Homo sapiens: one gene and its partner. The protein of the gene in region 2 purifies or fractionates together with the protein of the main gene of each other region. This does not show direct contact. Each region holds a gene or a part of one and is shown on either strand. Other genes may lie near its edges.

What was found.
Region 1: the proteins of ARL9 (region 2) and CKAP2L purify together in Homo sapiens (affinity purification with mass spectrometry; one large-scale study listed by BioGRID and IntAct). This does not show direct contact.

Annotation. Positions count from the first base shown.
Region 1 is NC_000002.12:112,744,110-112,747,609, forward strand, and holds part of CKAP2L (cytoskeleton-associated protein 2-like), read right to left. Parts: intron 2,467-3,500; coding exon 2,311-2,466; intron 1-2,310. UniProt on the Homo sapiens protein: Microtubule-associated protein required for mitotic spindle formation and cell-cycle progression in neural progenitor cells.
Region 2 is NC_000004.12:56,504,418-56,508,590, reverse strand, and holds the start of ARL9 (ADP-ribosylation factor-like protein 9), read right to left. Parts: upstream 2,801-4,173; 5' UTR 2,729-2,800; coding exon 2,450-2,728; intron 2,059-2,449; exon of another isoform or gene 1,928-2,058; intron 1-1,927.

The sequences.
Region 1 (3,500 bases), on a different chromosome or scaffold from region 2:
ATACAACATTCATCAAGCATATTTTATATTTGTATAGCCTTCTGGTTAATGATGGTGGATTAAATATACGTTTATTTCTAATCTCTCTTGAAAATCGACTGAAAGGATAATAAAGGGATTAAGAAGAGGCAATAACCACAAAACATAGGAGAGAAGAAATGACAATAAGGTTTTGGAAGCTGCAGTGCAGAAGGAAGAGAGGTAAACAATTTGATCTACTTGAGAGAGTTGAATCCCAAGCTGGCAGTGTGGCTAAGAAACAACCTGACAGAAAGGCTAAGGAATGGGTGGTAGGGCCCAAATTAGGAGGACTCTTTAGCATCTGTTCAAAAAGCAGTCAGACCTCCAAATCCATCCTGCACCCCTAAACTCTATGCAGCCTAGTAACTGTGTCTGACTCCCTTCATCCTAACAGAAAACTGGGAATGTATTCTGCAAGTCTCTGAGGGATATCATGCAAGATTAGGATAGGGTGCTTTCTGAGAAAAGGAGATAAGCAAAAGTTTCTATGTTGAGGGTTGAGACTCCCTGCTCTCTTCTCTCCCACAGCACTGGCAGCCTGGTGTCTAGCTCCCAGGAAGGAGATTGGAACAGATTTCTCCAGATAACTTGACCAGCTTAAGAGGAAAGACCTAAAGATACTGATATTGAGGGTTTTCTAACTAGTCAACTCAGCCAGATCACCCTGTGTTGAAGCCCCATCCATGTGTCTCGGGCTTTAAATAAGCTTTTTCAGACCCACCTTTTATATGTGCAAACAGCCCAGTTTCACCAGCATCTGTGTAAAGCCTTTAAAGAATAATAGAGAACAAAACAAAAAGAACAAACAAACAATAACAAGAGAGAAAGAAATGAAAAACATTGGAGAAGAAATAGACAATGTAGGAAGAAGAAAACTAATATGGGTTCTAAAAACAAGGGATCCACCCAACTTAAGAAGGATGTAAAGGGAATCTAAAGGTGATGGTAAAGAGATCCCAGAAAGACAGCTGGTGAAGACGGCAGTAAAAAGTAACTTGTTCAGTCTGGAATAAGCCAGAAGGGTCTAGGAGAAAGCTCTTTATCTAAGAAAAAGGAATCAATAGAATATCTGATGTTTTCAAAGTATTGAGGAACTTAGACAATTAGCGAAGAGTTTGTGAATTAATTATATAATAAATACTCAGAAAACTAAGCAAAGGCAAAACAAGACAATAACTCCAGGAAAAGTAGAAAGTTGTGCTTGAAAGGCAAAGTAATCATAGTATATATTGCATGGCTCAACATATTCATGTATTTTTTTTTTTTTTTGAGACAGTCTTGCACTGTTGCCCAGGCTGGAGTGCAGTGGCCCGATCTCGGCTCACTGCAAGCTCTGCCTCCCAGGTTCATGCCATTCTCCTGCCTCAGCCTCCCGAGTAGCTGGGACTACAGGTGCCCGCCACCACGCCCGGCTAACTTTTTTGTATTTTTTAGTAGAGATGGGGTTTCACCATGTTAGCCAAAATGGTCTCGATCTCCTGACCTTGTGATCCACCTGCCTCGGCCTCCCCAAGTGCTGGGATTACAGGCGTGAAACACCGTGCCCAGCCCATATATTTCTTATATATTCATAACAATGTGAATGCTAAATAGTGACCAGAATTTCCATGACTCTAATGAAAGTATAAGGAATGGCAAAGGTCTATAAGGATGGTAAATAGGGGTGTGTATTTGTGTGTGCTGGGGATCTGTGTATGTATGTGTGAAAGAGGGCTAAATCTTCACTCTGCATAGCTGGAAGTCCATAAATCATATCTAAAACTGAAAAATCAAGAAACAGAAACACGTTTTCTGAAACTATAGAGGTTAATATAAAAATAAATCAGTTTGCTCTAGGAAGGGGAAAATGGGAGGGAAGGAAGGCAGAGGTCTTACTGAACGAAACTTATCAAACTACTTGACTGCTTAAACTATGTGCATGTACAATTCTGATTTTGAACCATTATGGAAAAAGGTATCACACAGAATACAGAACATGACATGGAAAATGACATTTTAAGGAAAAGCATTATAAAACTATTTGATGCAGTTTTTGTAAATAATAATTATATAGTTTTTTTTTCTAAATTTTAGAATTAAAAGTTATTTCATGCAATGGCTCTGAATTATTGATTTAAGGATGCTGACGTATTGGGTTTAATATATTTTTAAGTTCTTTATGGTAAGGTATGACTTTATAAGTGTTGGATATTGATGTTGCAAACTTCTAACCATCATATTACAAACAACAACAGAGAACTCACATGAAAGAGAATTTTAAGAAGTTACCCACCCAAGACAGATACTCACTGTTGCCCCATTTTTAATGGCCTCTTCATATAGCCCAATAACATCAAAGGTGCCTTTACTTGCCAACAACTTTGCTTTGCAGATCCAGAATTTAGCAAATTTTTCAGCTTCAGGAATGCTGGACAATATGTTAAGTATTTCATTAGAAGGTACACCCTGAAATAAACCAAAATATCCAGAGGTAATTATTACCATTTCACTGTTAGTCTCACATCTCCTAATATTTATTACAGCAGGTATGCAGAAATTGGTTTGATCACTAATATTTTTGAACTTTTAAAAAAATTTCAATTTTACTGAGGTACAATGTACATGTAATAAAATGCACCTGTTTTAATTATCCATTTTAATGATTTGAGATTAATAATAATTATTATTTTTTTTTTGAGATGGAGTCTTGCTCTGTCGTCCAGGCTGGAGTGCAATGGCGCGATCTCGGTTCACTGCAACCTCCACCTCCCAGGTTCAAGCAAGTCTCCTGCCTCAGCCTCCCCAGTAGCTGGGACTACAGGCACATGCCACCACATGCTCGGCTAATTTTTTGTATTTTTAGTAGAGATGGGGTTTCACCGTGTTAGCCAGGATGGTCTTGATCTCCTGACCTCGTGATCCGCCCACCTCAGCCTCTTAACGTGCTGGGATTACAGGCATGAGCCACCATGCCTGGCTTAATTTTTCTTTTTTTTTTTGAGACAAGGTCTTACTCTGTTGCCCAGGCTGGAGTGCAGTGGTACGATCACAACTCGCTGCAACCTCTACCTCCTGGGATCAAGCAATCCTCCCACCTTAGCCTCTCGAGTAGCTGAGACCACAGGCATGAGCCACTGAGCCTGGCTTCCTCATCATTAAATTTTAAGAGTTATATGAGACCAAATAGAAAATGTTTATCATAGCTGAAGGTAAGAAATATGTTCATTTTTACATGGTACAAAAACAAAACAAATCCTAGAGTAAACATTTACATATTCATAATATTCCATATTTATAATAACGAGAACACTGAGTAGTGATGAGAATTTCCATAGGACTAATAGCAGTGTAAAGAATGACACAGGCATGCGAAGGTCATAGGGGTGTATATGTGTAAGTGTCAGGGATTTATGCAGGTGTTTATGAAAGAGGGTTAAATCCCACAAAAAGATAATTTGAAATGGATTCACTGGTTTGGTTCCCTTCTGGCTTGTGCCGTA
Region 2 (4,173 bases):
AACATGGTGAAATCCGGTCTCTAGTAAAAATACAAAATTAGCCGGGCGTGGTGGCGAATGCCAGTAATCCCAGCTACTGGGGAGGCTAAGTAAGGCAGGACAATCACTTGAACCTGGGAGGTGGAGGTTGCAATGAGCTGAGATCGCGCCATTGCACTCCAGCCTGGGCAACATGAGTGAAACTCTGTCTCAAAAAAAAAAGAAAAAGAAAAAATGTACGTATTTGTTCTTGGAGCAAATCTTTGATGGCTCTTAAACTAAATTGTATTTTCATAGATGTCTTCCATCCCTGCCTCTTCTCCATTCCCTTCATTTGCATCTAAATGTTATGATGTCATTCTGAGAGTGTGTCAAGGTAAGGAAGAGGGGCAAGGGAGACTTCATTGGATGGCTTAAAATTGCATGTTTTAAAGCAATACTGGCACCAAGAAATGGCAGCCAAGAGTGGATTGTGTCCTGTCAGTCTTCACCAGAGGCCCTATTCAGCCTACCCCAACATACTTCATTCATTCTAAGATACATATTCCCCCCACATTCCACATTTTAATATCTCTGAAATTAGAATGTCTTTGACAATTGAGAGTATGTCACATTTTGATTGGGAGAATTTTTTTTTTTTTTTTTTGATACAGAATCTCTCTCTGTGGAGTGCAGTGGCACGATCTTGGCTCACTACAACCTCTGCCTCCCAGGTTCACGCGATTTTCCTGCCTCAGCCTCCCGAGTAGCTGGGATTACAGGCACATGCCACCATGCCCAGCTACTTTTTTTGTATTTTTAGTAGAGATGGGGTTTTGCCATGTTGGCTAGGCTGTTCTGGAACTCCTGACCTCAGGTGATCCACCCACCTTGGCCTCCCAAAGTGCCGGGATTACAGGTGTGAGCCACTGCGCCGGCTTTTTTTTCTTTCTTAGTGGTACCTAGACTAATGTCATCTTAGGCCCTATAAAATAGTGTGAATTAAAAGCAGTTCCCAGGCCGGGCACAGTGGCTCATGCCTGTAATCCCAGCACTTTGGGAGGCCAACGCGGGTGGATCGCTTGAGCTCAGGAGTTGAAGACCAGCCTGGGCAACATGGCGAAACCCCATCTCTACCAAAAATACAGAAATTAGCTAGGCACGGCGGTGTGCACCTGTAATCCCAGCTACTTGGGAGGCTGAGGTGGGAGGATGACTTGAGCCTGGGAGGTGGAGGTTGCAGTGAGCCGAGATCACGCCACTGTACTCAAGCCTGGGCGACAGAGCCAGACTCTGTCTCAAAAAAACAAAAACAAAAATATCAGTTCCCTTTCCAACCACGTTGCTGTCCCTACGCCCATCCTACCTAGAAATTCTGCATTCAGGCTTCCTCACATTTACCTTCTCCTAAGGAAAGCTGAATTTGTAAAACAGTTCAGACACAAAATGTGATTCTGAACACCGTTTTTGTCAAAAGTTATTCCTTTAGCCAAATATGAGTCTATGTAGTCTGTGTTTTACCAGAGATCAAATCTCTGTTAATCCGTGGTGGCTCACGCCTGTAATCCCAGCGCTTTGGGAGGCTGAGGCGGGCGGATTGCTGGAGCCCAGGAGTTTGAGATCAGCCTGAGCTACATGGCGAAACTCCAGCTCTGCACAAAAATACAAAAATTAGCTGGACATGGTGGCGTGTGCCTGTAGTGCCAGTCACTGAGGTTGGGAGATGGGGGCGGTGCCAGGCTGAGGTGGGAGGATCCCTCCAGCCTGAGAGGCAGAGTAAGACCCTGTCTCAAAAAAGAACACACACACACACACACACACACACACACACACACACACACACACAACTGTGTTAATCATTCATAATTGTTTAGAACCAGAGCGCAGCTCTAAGCCAAGGAGCCAGCTCAGGAACTCCAGGAGCACAGAGACCATTCAGCTGACCCAAATAATGCCAAGTTTCTAAGACCTGTCAGTTAAAACTTTTCCGCCATCCATTCATGGTACTGGTGGTCTGAAAACAACTGCAGCGTCCCCAAACACCTCCTGCGTTCAGGAACCCTGCCCCTTCTGACAAAGAACGCATTCAATGCAAAGAGGGCCTGCGTGTGGGGAGGGTTCGGGGCTGGTTTCTAAATGTGGTCAGGTGGTCTGTGCGCTAGTGTTGCGCGCTGGACAGATCTAAGGGCAGTAGAGGGGCCGTTCCCCATGTCCCCATGAAGACCGAGATCTCTTGTCCCTCAACAACAGACCCGACTGAGGTTAAGACACAGGGGTAGCGATAAGGGCTAGGGTGGGCAGGGGGCCCGGGAAAAGGGGATGGGTCGTTCAAAGTTTGGCGCATCTCTTTCATCCATAGGTAAATAGCCCTCAGTTGAGATCCATTCGCTCCCACGCGGTCGGGGGCCTCCGACGTAACAGAGACAGCGCTGGGGTCTGAACGGCCGACAAAAGCCTTGGGGCAAGGGGTCCTGGGCACTGGGTCTCTTACCAGCGGCTCGAGCGGGGTCCTTGTCAAGGTGCTGTCCTTGTTCTCCCCTTTCTCTTCTTGTCCCTTAAATTGTTCCTTCTCTTTGTTTGTCTCCTTCCCTTGCTTTGTCCTCTTTTCCTCTTTCTCTTTTCCCTTTCTCCTCTCCTGCTTCTCTTGCTTTTGTTTAATTTTCTGCTCCACCTCCTTTCTTTTCACTTTCTCTTCCCTACCCTTTTCTCCGATTTTCTCCTCCTGCGTCTCCTTTTCCTTCTCTTTCTTCTTCACTTTCCCCCTCTCCATCCCCAGCGCCGCGGTTTCCTTCCCTCCCGCCGCGTGCCCGCGTGCTGAGCGGTGGCTCTGGGCCCCAGGTGTGGCTCCCGAGGTGCACGCCCGACAGAGACGTAGGCCCCGCGGCGTAGACAACCCGCGGGCGCTGCCAACCCCGGCACCGCCGCCAACCGCCGCTTACCTCGCGGATGCAGGGCTTCTTGCAGCCGATTCGCTGAACCCGCAGGGGTTCGCAAAGAGGGAAGGGCGGAGGCGTACGGATGGATTGAGCCCAGCCAAGCGAAACCAAGAGGTCCCAACCAGGACGTGGGACAGTTCGGCGGGGTATATCATTGCTGCAGAAAAAGCGTCCCTAGCGCGATTACCTCGGGCCAGGCAGGGTGGCTAAGAGCCTTCCACGTGGGCCGCAGTCTAAGCAACCTTAGCGTCTGACGTCTCCGGCTTCAATCCCGAGACCGGCCAGCCTGTGTGAAGAACCCCTGGGGCGTCAGAATCCAGAGGTTCCGGGAGGATTCTCAGCCTTCCCTCAGCTCCCAACCATGAGCCTGTACTGCTCATGTCATGTATTTCTCCGCCCTCTCCCGAGTAAACTCCGCTAGGAGTGTCTCCAGACTACTACCCAGGATTATTAGTTGACTATTACCCAGGATTATTAAAGACAAATAGAAGAACGTGAATGGGTTCCATTGTTTTAAGTTCCTGTTTTGTTTTTGAGACGGAGTCTCTGTCACCCAGGCTGGAGTGCAGTGGTGCGATCTCAGCTCACAGCAACCTCCGCCTCCCGGATTCAAGCGATTCTCCTGCCTCAGACTCCCAAGTAGCTGGGATTACAGGCGTGGGCCACCACGCCCGGCTAATTTTTGTATTTTTAGTAGCGACGGGGTTTCACCATGTTGGCCAGACTGGTTTCAAACTCCTGACCTCAAGTGATCCTCCCCGCCTCTGCCTCCCAAAGTGCTGGGATTATAGGCATAAGCCGCCGTGCCCGGCCTGTATTTCACTTTAAAAAAAATTATTCGGAGATAGCCTGCCAGGATCACAGCTGCTAGTAATGCTCAGTATTAAAACCAAAACCAAATAGTCTAGTCACTTCTAATTATCTAATAAATGGTAAATAAGGCACACGAAGGGCTTTTCAAAGGTGGTATTGTTTCTCAAACTGGCTAAGAAATATCTGGAGGGTTCCTTTTATCTTGCTAAACTGAACTCTTTAGTATATTTCAGTTTAGCACAATTATATATTTTTTGAGACAGTCTCGCTCTGTCGGCCAGGCTGGAGTGCAGTGACACAATCTCGGCTCACTACAACTTCCACCTCCCGGGTTCAAGCAATTCTCCTGCCTCAGCCTCCCGAGTAGCTGGGATTACAGGCATGTGCCACCATGCCCAGCTAATTTTTGTATTTTTAGTAGAGACGGAGTTTCACCATGTTGGCCAGGCTGGTCTCGAACTCCTGA